4 linked regions of the Homo sapiens genome follow. Changing the gene in region 2 together with the main gene of any one other region gives a genetic interaction. Each region holds a gene or a part of one and is shown on either strand. Other genes may lie near its edges.

What was found. Genes that interact genetically often act in the same process or in processes that back each other up.
Region 1: changes in GBF1 (region 2) and ARF4 together harm fitness less than expected from each alone (positive genetic interaction), as found in Homo sapiens cells (one study listed by BioGRID).
Region 3: changes in GBF1 (region 2) and ERGIC1 together harm fitness less than expected from each alone (positive genetic interaction), as found in Homo sapiens cells (one study listed by BioGRID).
Region 4: changes in GBF1 (region 2) and GALNT2 together harm fitness less than expected from each alone (positive genetic interaction), as found in Homo sapiens cells (one study listed by BioGRID).

Annotation. Positions count from the first base shown.
Region 1 is NC_000003.12:57,590,845-57,594,344, forward strand, and holds part of ARF4 (ADP-ribosylation factor 4), read right to left. Parts: intron 1-3,500.
Region 2 is NC_000010.11:102,369,390-102,374,531, forward strand, and holds part of GBF1 (Golgi-specific brefeldin A-resistance guanine nucleotide exchange factor 1), read left to right. Parts: intron 1-321; coding exon 322-386; intron 387-471; coding exon 472-595; intron 596-784; coding exon 785-856; intron 857-994; coding exon 995-1,089; intron 1,090-1,317; coding exon 1,318-1,471; intron 1,472-5,142. UniProt on the Homo sapiens protein: Guanine-nucleotide exchange factor (GEF) for members of the Arf family of small GTPases involved in trafficking in the early secretory pathway; its GEF activity initiates the coating of nascent vesicles via the localized generation of activated ARFs through replacement of GDP with GTP.
Region 3 is NC_000005.10:172,949,251-172,953,183, reverse strand, and holds the end of ERGIC1 (endoplasmic reticulum-Golgi intermediate compartment protein 1), read right to left. Parts: intron 2,476-3,933; coding exon 2,368-2,475; 3' UTR 501-2,367; downstream 1-500. UniProt on the Homo sapiens protein: Possible role in transport between endoplasmic reticulum and Golgi.
Region 4 is NC_000001.11:230,259,238-230,262,737, forward strand, and holds part of GALNT2 (polypeptide N-acetylgalactosaminyltransferase 2 precursor), read left to right. Parts: intron 1-240; exon of another isoform or gene 241-344; coding exon of another isoform or gene 345-526; intron 527-3,335; coding exon 3,336-3,428; intron 3,429-3,500. Other genes in the region: uncharacterized protein LOC124904542, read right to left, coding at 345-526. UniProt on the Homo sapiens protein: Catalyzes the initial reaction in O-linked oligosaccharide biosynthesis, the transfer of an N-acetyl-D-galactosamine residue to a serine or threonine residue on the protein receptor.

The DNA of each region.
Region 1 (3,500 bases), on a different chromosome or scaffold from region 2:
ATTTTTAAAATTTTTTTGTAGAGATGAGGTCTTGCCATGGTATGGTGCCCAGGCTGCGTAATAGTTTAAAATAATAATTTAAAATTGAATATTTACTGCATTCTAAGCATAGTAGGTGATTCTATACATTTTTGGACTTTAATTCTCACAATAACCTTTCATTTTTCAGATGAGACATTTAATGTCCAGAAATGTCCCCCACAGTCACAGAAACAGAAGAACAGATATTTAAAAACCTGAGTCTTGCAGAAAAATTAGAACCCTCATATATTGCTAGTGGGGATGTAAACGAGGATGTAAAATGGAAATGTTTGTCAGGTCCTCAAAATGTTCAAGACGGTTACCATGACACAATTCCGCTCCTAAGTATTTATCAGAGAATTTAAAACACATGCCCACACAAAAACTTGTTCATGAATGTTGAAGAGCTAGAAAGTGAAAACAACCTAATTTTTATCATCTGATGAATGGATAAATAAAATGTGGTTTATCCATACAATGTAATTACTATTTGGCCATCAAAAGAAATGAGGTGCTTATGTGAATTTAATGAAAAGGAAAAAAAAAAGAATGAAGTACTAATATACGCTATAATATGAATGAACTTTTTTCTTCTCTTTTCTTTTCTTTTTTTTTTTTTGAGACAGAGTCTCACTCTGTCACCTAGGCTGGAGTGCAATGGCACGATCTCAGCTCACTGCAACCTCCACCTCCCGGGTTCAAGGGATTCTCGTGCCTCGGCCTCCTGAGTTGCTGGGACTACAGGTATCTGCCACCACACCCGGCTAATTTTTGTATTTTGAGTATAGATGGGGTTTCACTATGTTGTCCAGGCTGGTCTCGAACTCCTGACCTCGTGATCTGCCCGCCTCAGCCTCCCAAAGTGCTGGGATTACAGGCGTGAGCCACCGCGCCCGGCCATTATGAATGAACTTTGACAACATCATGCCAAGTGAAAAAAGCCAGACAAAGAGGCCATAAATCATGATTCCATTAAATGAAGTGTCCGGAATAGATTAACCCATAGAAACAGAAAACAGATTACGGGCTGGGAAGAAAGGGGAATGGGAATTATTACTAATGGGTATCAGGTTTCTTTGAGGGATGATGAAAAATTCTGGAATTAGACAATGGTGATGGTTACACAACTTTGAATACATATACTAAAACCCACGGAACTGTACACTTTAACAGGGTAAACTTTATGGTCTATGTATTATATCTTGATTTTTTTATTAAAAAATTTTCTAAAAAGCCAAAACCAAAAAACCTAGTTCTGATGCCAGAGACCTCAAATACTATTTACATGCTGCCATCCTGCCTTTAGGTTTTTCTGGTGGACATACTGTATCTTAATATTTTGGCCAGGCACGGTGACTCATGCCTGTAATCGCAGCACTTTGGGAGAATGAGGCAGGTGGATCACCTGAGGTCAGGAGTTTGAGACCAGCTTGACCAATATGGTGAAACCCTCTCTACTACAAATATGAAAATTAGCCGGGCATGGTGGGAGGGGGCCTGTAATCCCAGCTACTGGAGAGACTGAGGCAGAAGGATTGCTTGAACCCAGGAGGCGGAGGTTGCAGTGACCTGAGATTGCACCACTGTACTCGAGCCTGGGTGACACAGTGAGACTCCATCTCAAATATTTTTTATCAAATTCATCAGATGCTTGACCAACCAAACTGAAACTCAGGCCACCAGTTATACGGAAAAATGTGAACTTAGGTTCTGCTTCTACACACGGATGAGAAACATCTACATTTTTATCAGTTAATTAGCAGCAAATTATCAAAGTTTCCGACAGCCTATTGCACTACTATAATAATGCAAAAGGGTGCATCTAAGGATGGCTGTACCTATCAGCCAGTGGCATGAAACAGGATTTTTGCCTTTTCTGTTTCCTATATTCACATAATCAGAAGAGCCTGTTTTTTTAAAGGCTGGCAGTTATATGTTCAACCAATAACCTGAGAAAATGCTTGTAATAAGCTAAATCAAAAAGAGAGGACACAAAACTAAACATCACAACTACAATTTTAGAGGAACAAAAACTTCCTCTTAAAAGGCTGAGCGTGTACCAGGTGTGGTGGCTTACACCTGTCATCCTAGCACTTTGGGAGGTCGAGGCAGGAGGACCTCTTGAGCCCAGGAGTTTGAGATCAGCTGGGCAACAGAGCAAGACCCCCATTCTCTACAAAATAATTTAAAAATTAGCCGGGCATAGTGGCGCCTGTAGTCCTAGCTACTCCAGAGCCTAAGGCAGGAGGGATTGCTTGAATCCAGGAGTTCAAGGCTACAGTGAGCTATGATCATGCCACCTGTATGTGCCCCAGAGTATGGGTGACAGAGCAAAACCCTGTCTCAAAAAATAAAAATAAAAATAAGGCTGAGAGTAAATATGACAGAATAGTGGAATTACAGATAGGTAATTATCACTTTATTCTTTTACCTGTTTTCTAAATGTAACAGAAGGAACACATACTACTTTTAGAATCAAGAGGAAAAACATAAAAAAATTACATAAATAGATGGATTTACAAAATATGCTAAGAAACAAATATAAAACACCACTCTTTAGCTTGGTAATATTTTTTAAAGTGACAAATATAGGATCCTTTCTCCTGAACATCTCTAGACCCCCAAAACCACAGTCACATTCAAGACAATACAGAACTACACTGGCATACTACACTACACTGATATCAGCAAACTTTTTAAAAGTAACACTTTTTCAGCTTTTCAACAGGCAAGAACTGGAAAGTTCAAAGTAAAGAGATCAGAATTAGTAATTCCTCTGCAGAACACATTAGTATTTTTGGATATATACATAATTTAAGGATTCACTTAACAACATTACATCTTATCATGGATCAAGATACAGAAACCAGACTTAAAATAGGACAATGCAGCCAGGCTCAGTGGCTCGCCCTGTAACCCTAGCACTTTTCGAGGCCGAGGTGGGCGGGATCGCTTCAGCCCAAGAACAGGCAAGATAGTGAGACCTTCTTGCTACAAAAAATGTCAAAAATTAGCCAGGCAGGTCTAATGGCATGTCCTTGTTGTCTCAGCTACTCAAAAGGAAAAAAAACATAATTATTTAAAAAATATATACAAAATACAGAAGCTGGCTGGGTGTGATGGCTCATGCTTGTAATCCTAGCACTTTGGGAGGCCAAGGCAGGTGGATCACCTGAGGTCAGGAGTTCGAGACTAGCCTGGCCAACATGGTGAAACCCCGTCTCTACTAAAAATACAAACATTAGCTGGGCTTGGTGGCGGGCGCTTGTAATCCCAGCTACTGAGGAGGCAGAGGTTGCAGTGAGCCTAGATCATGCCATTGCACTCTGGCCTGGGAGACAAGAGTGAAACTCCATCTCAAAAAAAATAAACAAAATAAAATACAGACGCTATTGCTTTATTTTTATTTTTTTCAAATAGATACGGGGTCTTGCTATGTTGACCAGGCTGGCCTCAATGTGATCCTCCCAACCTGGCCT
Region 2 (5,142 bases):
AATTCTTAGTAGGAGACTAGTGAGCGATAACAAGGCAAGAGCTGCAACATTGTATGCTACCTGTACATAGAAGTAAGTGGTTGAGAGTAATGTTGGGCCTGATGCCTGCCACAGCTCACCAGGAATGCCTCAAATGTAAGACCACAGATCTTGGGGGATAGCTGTAAAAGAAGGCTGGTAGATGCCATTGCCAGTCACCAATTGGCACAATAGCATAGGGGCAGAAGACTAGAGGAGGAAATCCAGAGAACTTTGGTGGGTGGAGGCGGGCACAAATGCAAAGGACACATGGAAAGAAATTATTTTGACTTACTTTTCCAGGTAGAAGATTTCGTGGATCCCAATGGCAAGATCTCTCTACAGCGGGAAGAGACACCATCAAACCGGTAAGAGCAGACCAGAGGCTCAGGGGCTTGGGGAGGGAGAGTCAGAACTTTGGGGCTCACCAGGCCATGTGCCCTTTTTCTACAGAGGAGAGTCAACAGTGCTGAGCTTTGTGAGCTGGCTAACACTGAGTGGTCCTGAGCAGTCTAGTGTTCGGGGCCCATCCACTGAAAACCAAGAGGCCAAGAGAGTGGCCTTAGAGTGTATAAAGGTAACTGCCCATCCACCCCTGGTGAGAAAGCCTAAACACCTTCCTATTAGATGCTACTTGGTGAACTGAAGAATAAATCATCCAGGATTTGTAACCAGGGCTGACTCTGCCCTCTCCCCCTGGCTCTTGGGGACATTCTGTTCTCTTCAGCCTTTGTCAAAGACCCCCTCTCTCTTTTGCCCTCTCTAGCAATGTGACCCAGAAAAAATGATCACAGAAAGCAAGTTCCTCCAGCTGGAGTCACTACAGGAGCTCATGAAGGTAAAGGATGAAGAAAGGAAACATGGAACAACTGGCTGAATCTGGGAGGGGTGACAGGGACAGTATTATTTCTGTCAGGGCAGGGCCAGTGGTTGGCTTCTTTTCCATGCCTACTTTCCTGCTGCTGTTCCCCTTCAGGCTCTGGTCTCAGTGACACCAGATGAAGAGACATATGATGAGGAAGATGCTGCTTTCTGCCTAGAGATGCTGCTAAGGATTGTGTTGGAGAACAGGTAAGATGAGCGTAGTCTTTAGGCAGACCCCATGCTGGGCTTGTGCCAAAGGGATGGAAGCCATCTTGCTGAGTGGGCTCTGGGGAACTGTAGGCAGCAGGGGAGAAGCTTACTCATCATACCTGTCTACTTAGGGTATAATACCAATGAGTCCTGAAAGGCCTAGGGGACCTGTTGCCCAGTGGCCCCTCTGGCTGAGACTATCTTCATTCCTTTATGTCTACACAGGGATCGTGTGGGCTGTGTGTGGCAGACTGTTCGAGACCATCTATACCACCTCTGTGTTCAGGCACAAGATTTCTGCTTCCTTGTGGAGCGGGCAGTGGTGGGGTTGCTACGCCTGGCCATTCGGCTTCTCCGGAGAGAAGAGATCAGTGCTCAGGTAAGCAGAATGCATCTTGGAGAGTGGGCAGGTATGCAAGGGATTAAGGCCACAGTTGTCAATTATGAATATGGCCTGAGACAGAGAGTACATTTAGTGCCCCATAGCATGAGTCCAGTGACCAACCACAGGGCTGGTGCAGTCTAGCGGGTGGTACTGGGAGTGAGCCTGGAATGGCCTCAGGCATGGAGCTTGTGTTTGGCACCTCAGCCTCCTATGAATCTGCTTTGTAGGACTGGCCTGCTACTGCCTTATAATAGTCTCAGCCCTATACCTGGTTTCCTGTCATGCTTATGACCCTCTTGAGATCTCTTTGCTTAACTACAAAAAACAACAAGCATAGAACTAATAAGTGGATTCAACAAGGTCACAGGATGTGAGATCAATACACAAAAAGTAATTATATCTCTACATGCTAACAATGAACAATATGGAAACTGAAATTTAAAATACAATACCATTTACAAGGGTTCCAAATAAAGTGAAATACTTAATATATAGCTGACAAAACATGTATAAGATTTGTATGATGAAAACTACAAAACTACAAAATAAATTGAAGAAGATGTAAATAAATGAAGAGGCATACTATGTTCATGGATTGGAAGGCTCAACATAGTAACTTTGTCACTTCTCCCCAAATTGATCTGTAAATTCAACATAACTCCTATAAAAATCCCAGAAAGGTTCTTGTAGACATAGGTAAGCTTATTCTAAAATTTAGATGGAAAGGCACAAGCTCTAGAATAGCTAGAAAGAATAAAGTGGAAAGAATCACTCTCTCTGGGCCGGTTGCTGTGGTTCATGCCTGTAATCTCAGCACTGCGGGAGGCCACAGCGGGCAGATCACTTGAGGTCAGGAGTTCAAGGCCAGCCTGGCCAACATGGTGAAACCCCATCTCTACTAAAAACACAAAAATTAGCAGGGTGTGGTGGCACACACCTGTAATCCTAGCTACTTGGGAGGCTGAGGCAGGAGAATCGCTTGAACTCAAGGCGGAGGTTGCAGTGAGCTGAGATCGCGCCACTGCACTCCAGCTGGGTGACAGAGTGAGATTCTGTCTCAAAAAAAAAAAAAAAGAATCACTCTGGTATTAAGACTTACTGTCCACTTTGGGGGGCTGAGGCGGGTGGATCACGAGGTCAGGAGATCAAGACCAGCCTGACTAACGTGGTGAAACCCCGTCTCTACTAAAAATAGAAAAATTAGCTGGGCGTGATGGTGAGCGCCTGATTGCTACTCGGGAGGCTGAGGCAGGAGAATCGCTTGAACCTGGGAGGCGGAGGTTGCAGTGAGCCAAGATTGCGCCACTGCACTCCAGCCTGGGCAACACAGCGAGACTCCATCTCAAAAAAAAAAAAAGACTTACTCTCGGCTGGACACAGTGGCTCACGTCTGTAATCCCAACACTTTGTGAGGCCAAGGCAGGCAATCACCTGAGGTTGGGAGTTCGAGACCAGCCTGACCAACATGGAGAAACCTCGTCTCTACTAAAAATACAGAATTAGCCAGGCATGGTGGGGCATGCCTGTAATCCCAGCTACTCAGGAGGCTGAGGCAGGAGAATCACTTGAACCTGGGAGGCAGAGGTTGTAGTAAGCCAAGATCACACCATTGCACTCCAGCCTGGACAGCGAAACTCTGTCTCAAAAAAAAGACTTACTGTATAGCTATAGTAGTCAAGATTATGTGGTGTCGATGGAGGGACAGACACGTAGATCAATGGAAAAGAATAGAGAGACCAGAAATAAGCTCAACACAAATATGTTCAGTGGATTTTTTGACCAAGATGTAAGAACAATTCAGTGGAGGAGGAATAGCCTTTTCAATAAGTGGTGGAGTGATTAAAATCCATAGGAGGAAAAACCAAATGAACCTTGACCTAAACCTCATACCTTACAGGAAAATTAACTCCAATGGATCATAGATTTAAATGTAAAGCTATAAAAACTTTAGAAACAGGAGAAAATCTTCAGGATCTAGAGCTAAGCAAAGAATTTTTAGCATGTTTGGCAGTCCTGTGGATCTGTCTCTTGCCTCAACACTGTCTGGATGGAACAGATCCGGGGGAGACTCTCTTTCAAAAAAAGTAATAATTTTTAGACTTGACATTAAAAGCACAATCTAGAAAAGGAAAAATTGATAAGTTGGGCTACATTAATATTTTTAAAAGTTTTGTTCTATGAGAGCCTATGTGAAGAGGATGAAAAGACAAGCTGTAGACGAGGAGGAAATATTTGCAAATCACATATTTGAAGAAAGGTATCTGTAATATAAAAACTCTCAAAACACAACAGTGATAAAACAATCCAATTATTAATAGAAAATGGACAAAACATAGGAACAGATGTTTCACCAAAGAACACATACAGATGGCAGATAGGCACATGAAATGAAGATAGCATCATTAACCATCAGAGTACTGCAAACTAAAACCACAATGAGGCTCACACCTGTAAGCCCAGCACTTTGGGAGGCTGAGGTGGGTGGATCACCTGAGGTCAGGAGTTTGAGCCCAGCCTGGCCAACATGGTGAAACCATGTCTCTACCAATAAATACAAAAATTAGCTGGGCGTGGTCACACACACCTGTAGTCTCACCTACTGAGGAGATTGAGGTGGGAGGATCGCTTGAACGCAGGAGGTTGCAGTGAGCTGAGATCGTGCCACTGCACTCCTGCCTGGGTGACAGAGCAAGACTCCAAAAAATAAAAACACAATGAGACATCACTACCCACTTTTCAGAATGGCTGAAATAAAAAGTAGTGACAATACCAAATGCTGAAAGGACGTGGAGAAACTGGGTCATTCATATATTGCTGGGTGGGAATGTAAAATGGTACAGCTACTCTGCTGGCAGTTTCTTATAAAATGAAACATATAATTACCATACAACCCAGCAATTGCACCCTTGGACATTTATCCCAGAAAAGTGAAAGCTTACTTTCTCATAAAAACCTGTACATGAATGTTTATAGAAGCCTTAGTTGTAATAGCCAAAAACTGGAATCGGCCCAGATGACTTTCAATAGGTGAATAAACTGTGGTACATACACACCATGGAATACTATTCAGCAATTTAAAGCAACAGACATCTCCAGGGAACTATGCTGAGTGAAAGAAAAGCCAATCTAAAAAGGTTATGTAATATATAATTCCACTTATATAACATTTTTGAAATGACAGAACTTTAGAATTTGAAGACAGGCTGGGCGCAGTGGCTCACACCTGTAATCCCAGCACTTTGGGAAACTGAGGCTGGTGAATCACTTGAGGTCAGGAGTTCGAGACCAGCCTGGCCAACATGGTGAAACCCCATCTCTACTAAAAATACAAAAATTAGCCAGGCGTGGTGGCTCGCACCTGTAATCCCATCTACTTGGGAGGCTGAGGCAGGAGAATCACTTGAACATGGGAAGCAGAGGTTGCAGTGAGCTGAGATCCTGCCTGCACTCTAGCCTGGGCAACAGAGTAAGACTCCATCTCAAAAAAAAAAAGAATTTGAAGACAGATTGCTAAGGATTAGGGATGGGGGCAGGAAGGAGGAGGTGGGTGTGGTTATAAAAGGGCAACATGAGCTGGGCATGGTGGTGCATGCCTGTAGTTCCAGCTACTCTGGAGGCTGAGACAGGAGGATCACTTGCGCCCAGGAGTTTGAGGCTGCTGTGAG
Region 3 (3,933 bases), on a different chromosome or scaffold from region 2:
CTCCCAAAAGTGTTGGGAATACAGGTGTGAGCCACTGCACCTGGCCAAAGGGGGTTTCACTTTTTTTTTTTTTTGAGATGGAGTCTCGCTCTGTCGCCCAGGCTGGAGTGCAGTGGCACGATCTCGGCTCACTGCAAGCTCTGCCTTCTGGGTTCATGCCATTCTCCTGCCTCAGCCTCTGGAGTAGCTGGGACTACAGGCGCCCGCCACCACACCTGGCTCATTTTTTGTATTTTTAGTAGAGACGGGGTTTCTCCATGTTAGCCAGGATGGTCTCGATCTCCTGACCTCCTGATTGGCCCACCTCGGCCTCCCAAAGTGCTGGGATTACAGGCGTGAGCCACCGTGCCTGGCCGGGGTTTGACTTTCTGATCATCCTCACAGATCTCCTTTTCAACTCTTCTACCTTCTCTCCTCTAGAAGTGAATTCCATTCTGGCTGTGATTCCAGCCTTTGGGTCACCCAGCCCCAGTCAAGGTAGAAAGAATCACACCATAATATTTCTGAAAATCAGCCTTTTAATCTAGTTGAACCCAACGAGTGGGGAAAGAACTAAAACATTTTTTTCCCTTCAGATTTTGATTATAAGAATAACGGGTCAGAGGTGTCTCTTCCATAGGAAACTGACATCCCCTATGTCCTCAGAGTTGTTTTTTTTTTTTTCTTCAAAAAAATGCATAAAAGAATTTCAACTCATGTGCATGCCACACATTTCCATCCCCACCCCACCCTGCCCCACCCTCTACAGGCACACATATTCACACACCAAAGGGACTCCTTCCTGTAACTGGGGAACAGAATGTAAAAAAATCCATCCAAGTGGCCACCGATACCAGAAATAACCAAATGCATTTACACTCACAACATCAGTCAACTCACATGCACAAGGAGAAGCGTCTCCAATCGGAGCTTAGAGCCAAAAATTACAAATGGCAGAGACTTGAGCTATCCATAAGATAATTTTAAAAATCCTTCCACTGGACACTCCCCTTCATTACAAAAGTATGCAAACAATCTTGCTATAAATGGAAAACAGGCGTGTGGCTCTCTCCCTGGGACATGAGGGCATAGCTAAAATTCCCTGGGTGGAATTAATGCCTGGACCATTGCTCCTCCCTTTCAGGACAAAAGGGAAAGGATGAAGAGGAGCAGCAGGGTAGGGACCCACCTCAGGAGCAGGTGGGGCACCCTGGAGCTGCCTCAGGGGCTGGGAACGTGTTGGCATGTGACCAGCTGATGGAGGAGCACAGTGTCAAGTGGGCCACGATGGCTGTAGAGAAACCCAAGTGCTCTGCACCCGTAGGGAGTCCAGAAGGTAGAGGTCCACGGACAGGACAGGCCTGGCCTGCTTTGCTTCCTCCACCTAAGGCCTTGGGACCGATGGCGTCCGTCTGAGAGGCTGCATGATTATTTTAGGGTTGCAGGAAGGATGCTTCCCATCTGGACGTAAGTGCACAAACCATGTCTATCTGGATCTCAAAAGATGACTTCCCCTTTACACAACCCCCACTCCCTGCCACTGCAGATCCCAGCAGAGTGGTGGGAGATCTTGGCAGTGGGAACCAGAATGCTGTTGCCACACAGCACACAGGCTGAGGCACATTGGTGGAGGGTTCAGAGGAACGAGGAGAAGAGAGGAAGAGGAATCTGTGACCCGCCTTGTGACTGGTGGGCAGATTCAAGTCTCTACCGCTGCTGCTGAGCAACTGGGCATCTGCTTCTTGGAAGAACAAGAAAGGGGTGGGGTAAAGACTTGAGGCCTGGGTTCTAGGTTGGGCAGGAAGGGATGGGGCAGAAGTCAGGGTTCCATCTATAGTGACAAATCATAGGGGCTTGCTTGGGAAGTACCATCTTTCGTGGAAGGTGCCGGGTGTATAAAGGAGTACCTTTGGGCAGCCTGGTCCCAAAGCTGAAAGCCCAGGTCTGGTGCCTCTGGGGCAGGTTGGCTGCCCAGGGGAGAAACCAAATCATTAATGTGTCCACCTAGTGGGGGCTGCGAGATTGTCGAAGCCTGGCTGAGAGCTGATCGATATGCATTCTGGGATGTTCCCCTGAGGGAAGAGACTGCAGCTCTCCTAGGAGGGGTCCCCAAGATCCCTGGACTCCCCACCCCTTGCCTGACTCTGTTCTTGGGGCTCCCCAGGGAAAGGGGAACTGCAACTTCAGGCAGTGTAATTTGTCTAAAAAGAAACACGGGGAAAAGAGGTAGCTGCAAAACATCGAGCCATCCTCTACTTTCCCCCCACTTCCCACACACCCTTTGGGACACAGCCAGATTTGGGACCAGATTGAGGGCCAAAGGAGACAGGGCACTGGAGGCAAGGCTGGCGATGCCCAGGGTCCTCGGCCATTAGGCTGGGTGTGGCGTCAATGCATCTTGCCCAGCTGGATCTTCTTCCAGGCCTCAGAGGCTGTGAAGATGCATGAGTCCAGGATGCCGGCGACGGTGAAGGTCCCGCCAATGATGGCACAGATCTGCAAGAGGGCAGGGGTGGGGTGGGAGTGTCAGAAGTCAGTGCTGGAGGATGAACCAGGCCAGACCCCTCCCACATCATGAGATGATGGGCTCTGCAAGGCAGACATTGCCCGTTAAGCCCATAATACCCACTACATAGTCACCAAGTCCGGAACATACTTAGGGCTCAAAGAAAACCAGTTGTTGGATGGTGGATTTAATAATAATAAAATAATTTTCACCATTATGAGCTCCTTTAATTCCCATATTCACCCTCTGAATGAGGAAGGGAATTATTAGACCCATTTCACAGCGGAGGAAACTGAGGTTCATCAGGTGACTTGCCTAAGTTCACCACTAGCAGAGATGCAACTTGAACACAGGTACGTCTTAACTCTGGAGCCTGTGGTCTTAACCTCAACTCTGAATTTATCACATATTTACAATCCCATTTGCAGATGAAGGAAATGGAGGTTCTGAAAGGCAGTCCCAGGGGCCCAAGGTCACACAGCCAAGAAATGGCATCCTGGGACTTGATGGGTAGTAAGCAAATAATCATACCAATAAATGCAAAATTATAGCCAAGGCAAGTGCTACAAAGGACAGAGAGGCCTTTGGTGCTACCAGAAAGCTTCTATTAGAGCAAGGTTTCTTTTTCTTTTTCTTTTTTTTCTGTCTTCCAGGCTGGAGTGCAGTGGCGTGATCTCAGCTCACTGCAAGCTCCGCCTCCCGGGTTCACGGCATTCTCCTGCCTCAGCCTCCCGAGTAGCTGGGACTACAGCTGCCTGCCACCGCGCCTGGCTAATTTTTTGTATTTTTAGTAGAGACAGGGTGGGGGTGTTTCACCGTGTTAGCCAGGATGGTCTTGATCTCCTGACCTCGTGCTCCACCCGCCTCGGCCTCCCAAAGTGCTGGGATTACAAGCATGAGCCACTGTGCCTGGCCAGGGCAAGGTTTCTAATGGCACCATTGACATTTGGGGCCAGAGAATTTTTTGCCACAGGGGCTGTCCTTTGCAGAAGGATTTAGCATCCCTGGCCTCTACCCAGGAGATGCCAATCATACCCCCCCCCGCCACGCTGTGACAACCACAATGTCTCCAAACATTGCCAAATGTCCCCAGATGTCAAAATTGCCCCTGGTTGAGAATGGCGGTAGCAGGAGGATAATGAATGTCACCTGTTATGTCTGTACTTCATAACTGTCTGCCACATCATAATATACTAACCACAACAAAATACACAGTACTTACACAGCACCTTCCCTGGGCCAGGTGGGTTACAGTGCTCCATGCCTACCACCCCAGTGAATCCCCAGCTCAACCCTAGGCAGTAGGTACTATTCTTAGACTATTTCACAGCCAAGGAAACTGAGGCACAGAGACCCTGAATCCCTCGTCCAATGCCACAGCAAGTGGCTGAATAGGGGTTCAAAACTTTGGAGTCTGTGCTCTTAATGTGACACCCTGTTGCTTCTCA
Region 4 (3,500 bases), on a different chromosome or scaffold from region 2:
GGAATATTTATATGTACTACCTAATGAGATATCTTGGGGCTGGGACCTAAGTCAAAGTACAAAATTTGTTTGTTTTATATAGACCTTATACACATAGCCTGAAGTTAATTTAATACAATACTTTTCATAATTTTCTGCATGAAACAAAGTTTGTGTACATTAAACCATCAGAAAGCAAAGGCGTCACTGTGACCGCCCACTGGATTCACCTTGCCCGCTGCCCAGATGGAGCTGACTTACCAAGATGGGAATTGCAATAGAGAAAGAGTTTAGTTCACACAGAGCTGGCTAAGTGGGAGACTGGAATTTTATTACTTAAGTCAATCTCCCCCAAAATTCAGAGGCTAGGGTTTTTCAAGGATAATCTGGAGGGAGCTGGGGACTAGGGAGTGGGTGCTGCTGATTGGATGAGGTGCAATCATAGGGGTGTGGAAAATGGTCCTTGTGCCTGCCGAGTCTGCTTCTGCATGGATGGGTCCACAGGACAAGCTGGAGATCTGGATGGAGTCATCAGAAGTGCAGAAGCCTGAAAAGACATTACAAAAGGCCAATCTTACGTTCTGCAATGGTGATGTTATCTGCAGGAGTAATTGGGGAAGTTGCAAATCTGTGGCTGATTTGTTAGTCCAACAAAGGCAGTCTGGTACCCAGACAAAAAGAGGGTTTGTTTGGGGAAAGGGCTGTTACCATCTTTGTTTTAAAGTTAAACTATAAACTAAGTTTCTCCCAAAGTTAGTTCTGCCTATGCCCAGGAGTGAACAAGGGCAGTTTAGACGTTAGAAGTTAGATGGAGTCAGTCAGGTCAGATGCCTTAAACTGTCAATTTTGTCATTGTTAAATTTTTTGCAAAGGCAGTTTCGTCACTATCTCATGTTGGTGCTCAAAAAGTTTTGGATGTTAGGACATTTTGGATTAGGGATGCCCAACTTGTAATAGATGACATTTAATATTTATTTAATACTTATTTAATACTACCTAAATACTTGCAAATACCTGCAAAAACAAGGAGGGCCTGGACAAAAGTGAGTCTCCCTCGGTGCCACTGTATCTGCAGCACTGAGACTGTTTGGTGTAGATACCAAATAAATACCTGAGTGAACCAATAAATAAATGAATAAAAGGAGCTAGCACTGAGTAGCACATGGAGATCATTCCTTGGGGCTGCCTAGTTATCCTTTTCTATTACAAAGACAGAAAAGAGTTGCTTTGCGTTTAGGAATTTTTAAGTGATTTAGTCACTTAAAAACTTGAGTGATTTGAAAACAGTATGACTGGAGTTGATAAAACCTTTAAATCATTAAGGCTGAAAGGAACCTAGGACATTCTGGAATCAAATCCTTTCATGTCCCTGTTGGGGAAATCCAGGTGCCAGATGTTACAAGTATTTAAGTTAATAACTGGTTAAAAACTGACTAGGCATAGGTTAAGGCATAGGTCACTTAGCAAAACCCCACTAACAATGTTTAGTGGCTCTTCTGAGAAATGATATGTATGATCCAGTATCCCCCAGCACTTTAAGTACTCATTGTTGTATCTGTATATTTTTTAATAGAGAGAAAGTAAAAATTCATCAGTCTCATCACCAAACCAGTTGTGCCATAACACTCTCATAATTTGATGAATTCGTCTGTCAGTATCTATTTCTGTCTCTCTCTCTTGTTTGCTCACTGGCTCTCCTTCTGCCTCTACACACATATCCACTATATGCAATTCTGCAAACTATTTTATTTTCCCACAAGTCCAGGACATCATTTCTGTCAACATGTAAGATGCACACTCATGTTTTTAGTGGTCACAGAATATTTCATTTGATTCCTTCCTCATATTTAGTCATAAAGTTTCTCTTTTTTTTTTTTTTTTTTGCTATTATAAACAAAGCAGAAGTGAGCATATTTTCACATGTATATTTCATTCCTAATTGATTGCTGCCTTGAGATAAATTTCTAGAAGTAGAGCTGCTGGGTCAGAGAATAGGTGCATTCATATGTTCTTATCTGTGTTGAATGGCATTATGGATAATAGTCCATATTCTACTTACTAAAATGAAAAAGTATATATATCACCTTATATGAAAGATATAGGCCCCATACAGAAATTATTTTAATAATGGTATCTCAGATCAGTTGAAAGTTTCGCCATTTTAAGGAATTATTTTAAAAGGCGAGCATTACCTCCTTACTGTATTTATTTTGGAAGAACACAGTGCCTTCCTATGGGGTTCTTAAGGAGGGCTAGCTATAGCCTGAAGTGGGAGTCCACCTTATAGCCGAGACCAGAATATGGGAGCAAAGAGGTTAGCTGTGTGCTTGCTACTTCATGGATGCTTTAAGATAATTCTTGGCAGAATACACTGCTGATACCTATGCAGATGATAGCTTTTAATGCATGTCAGACATTCAAGAGTAGCTTGTCCCAGGGGCTTTATTTATGGCAAATCATGGTTCTCTCTATGAGATTTAAGTACATGGTTTTCTTTCCTTCTAGAAAAGCCGGCTGGGCGCGGTGGCTCACGCCTGTAATCCCAGCACTTTGGGAAGCTGAGGCGAGTGGATCACAAGGTCAAGAGATCGAGACCATCCTGGCTAATGTGGTGAAACCGTCTCTACTAAAATTACACAAAAATTTTAGCTGGGTGTGGTGGTACATGCCTATAGTCCCAGCTGCTCAGGAAGCTCAGGCAGGAGAATCGCTTGAACCCGGGAGGCGGAGGTTTCAGTGAGCCGAGATCTCGCCACTGCACTCCAGCTTGGCAGCAGAGCGAGACTCCATCAAAAAAAAAAAAAGCTAGTGCAAACATGGCAGTCTTTCAGCTTAGCCCCGCAGAAAAGAAAGTGATTTTCCCAGGAACTCTTATCTTATGTAGTCTGAACTTTAATGCAGAGCTGTCTGATAGTGTCGTAGCCGTGACGGAGAAGGCCGTGGGGCCTGGAATCTCCTTGCTGTGCTCTGTGGCCCCGGCCCTCTGTGGACGCGTAATGTGAGAGTTTTTAAAGAGTAACTTTCTTTTGTCCTTCTTTAAGATATAGACCCCAGTCCCTCCTTTAAAATATTGGCTCGTGCTGTAATTTCCACTTTGCCTTTTGCCCTTTGACCATCTGTGTGACAAGAAAGCCATTCCAATGGTTCAGTAAGCACCCGCTGAGGCTGGCTCCCCACAGGTCCAGCTCGAGGTGCTGGTGGGGACAGCCCACCCTCTGCTGTGTGCCGTGATCCCAGCTGGAGCTGCTGCACACCCAGAGGGAGCCGCCTCAGTCACACGCCAGCAGACAGGTGCAAATGGAGTGATGCAGACAGAAAGAAAGGAAATCACACCTCAAGATTTATTTTCTTTCTAGAAACACCCGCCGGGCAGCAGAGGTCTGGATGGATGAATACAAAAATTTCTATTATGCAGCAGTGCCTTCTGCTAGAAACGTTCCTTATGGAAAGTAAGTGGCAGTTCTGCCTTCTCACAATTACTGGGGATTCTTGGGGTGTGGGGGTGGGAGGTAAGGGGCTGC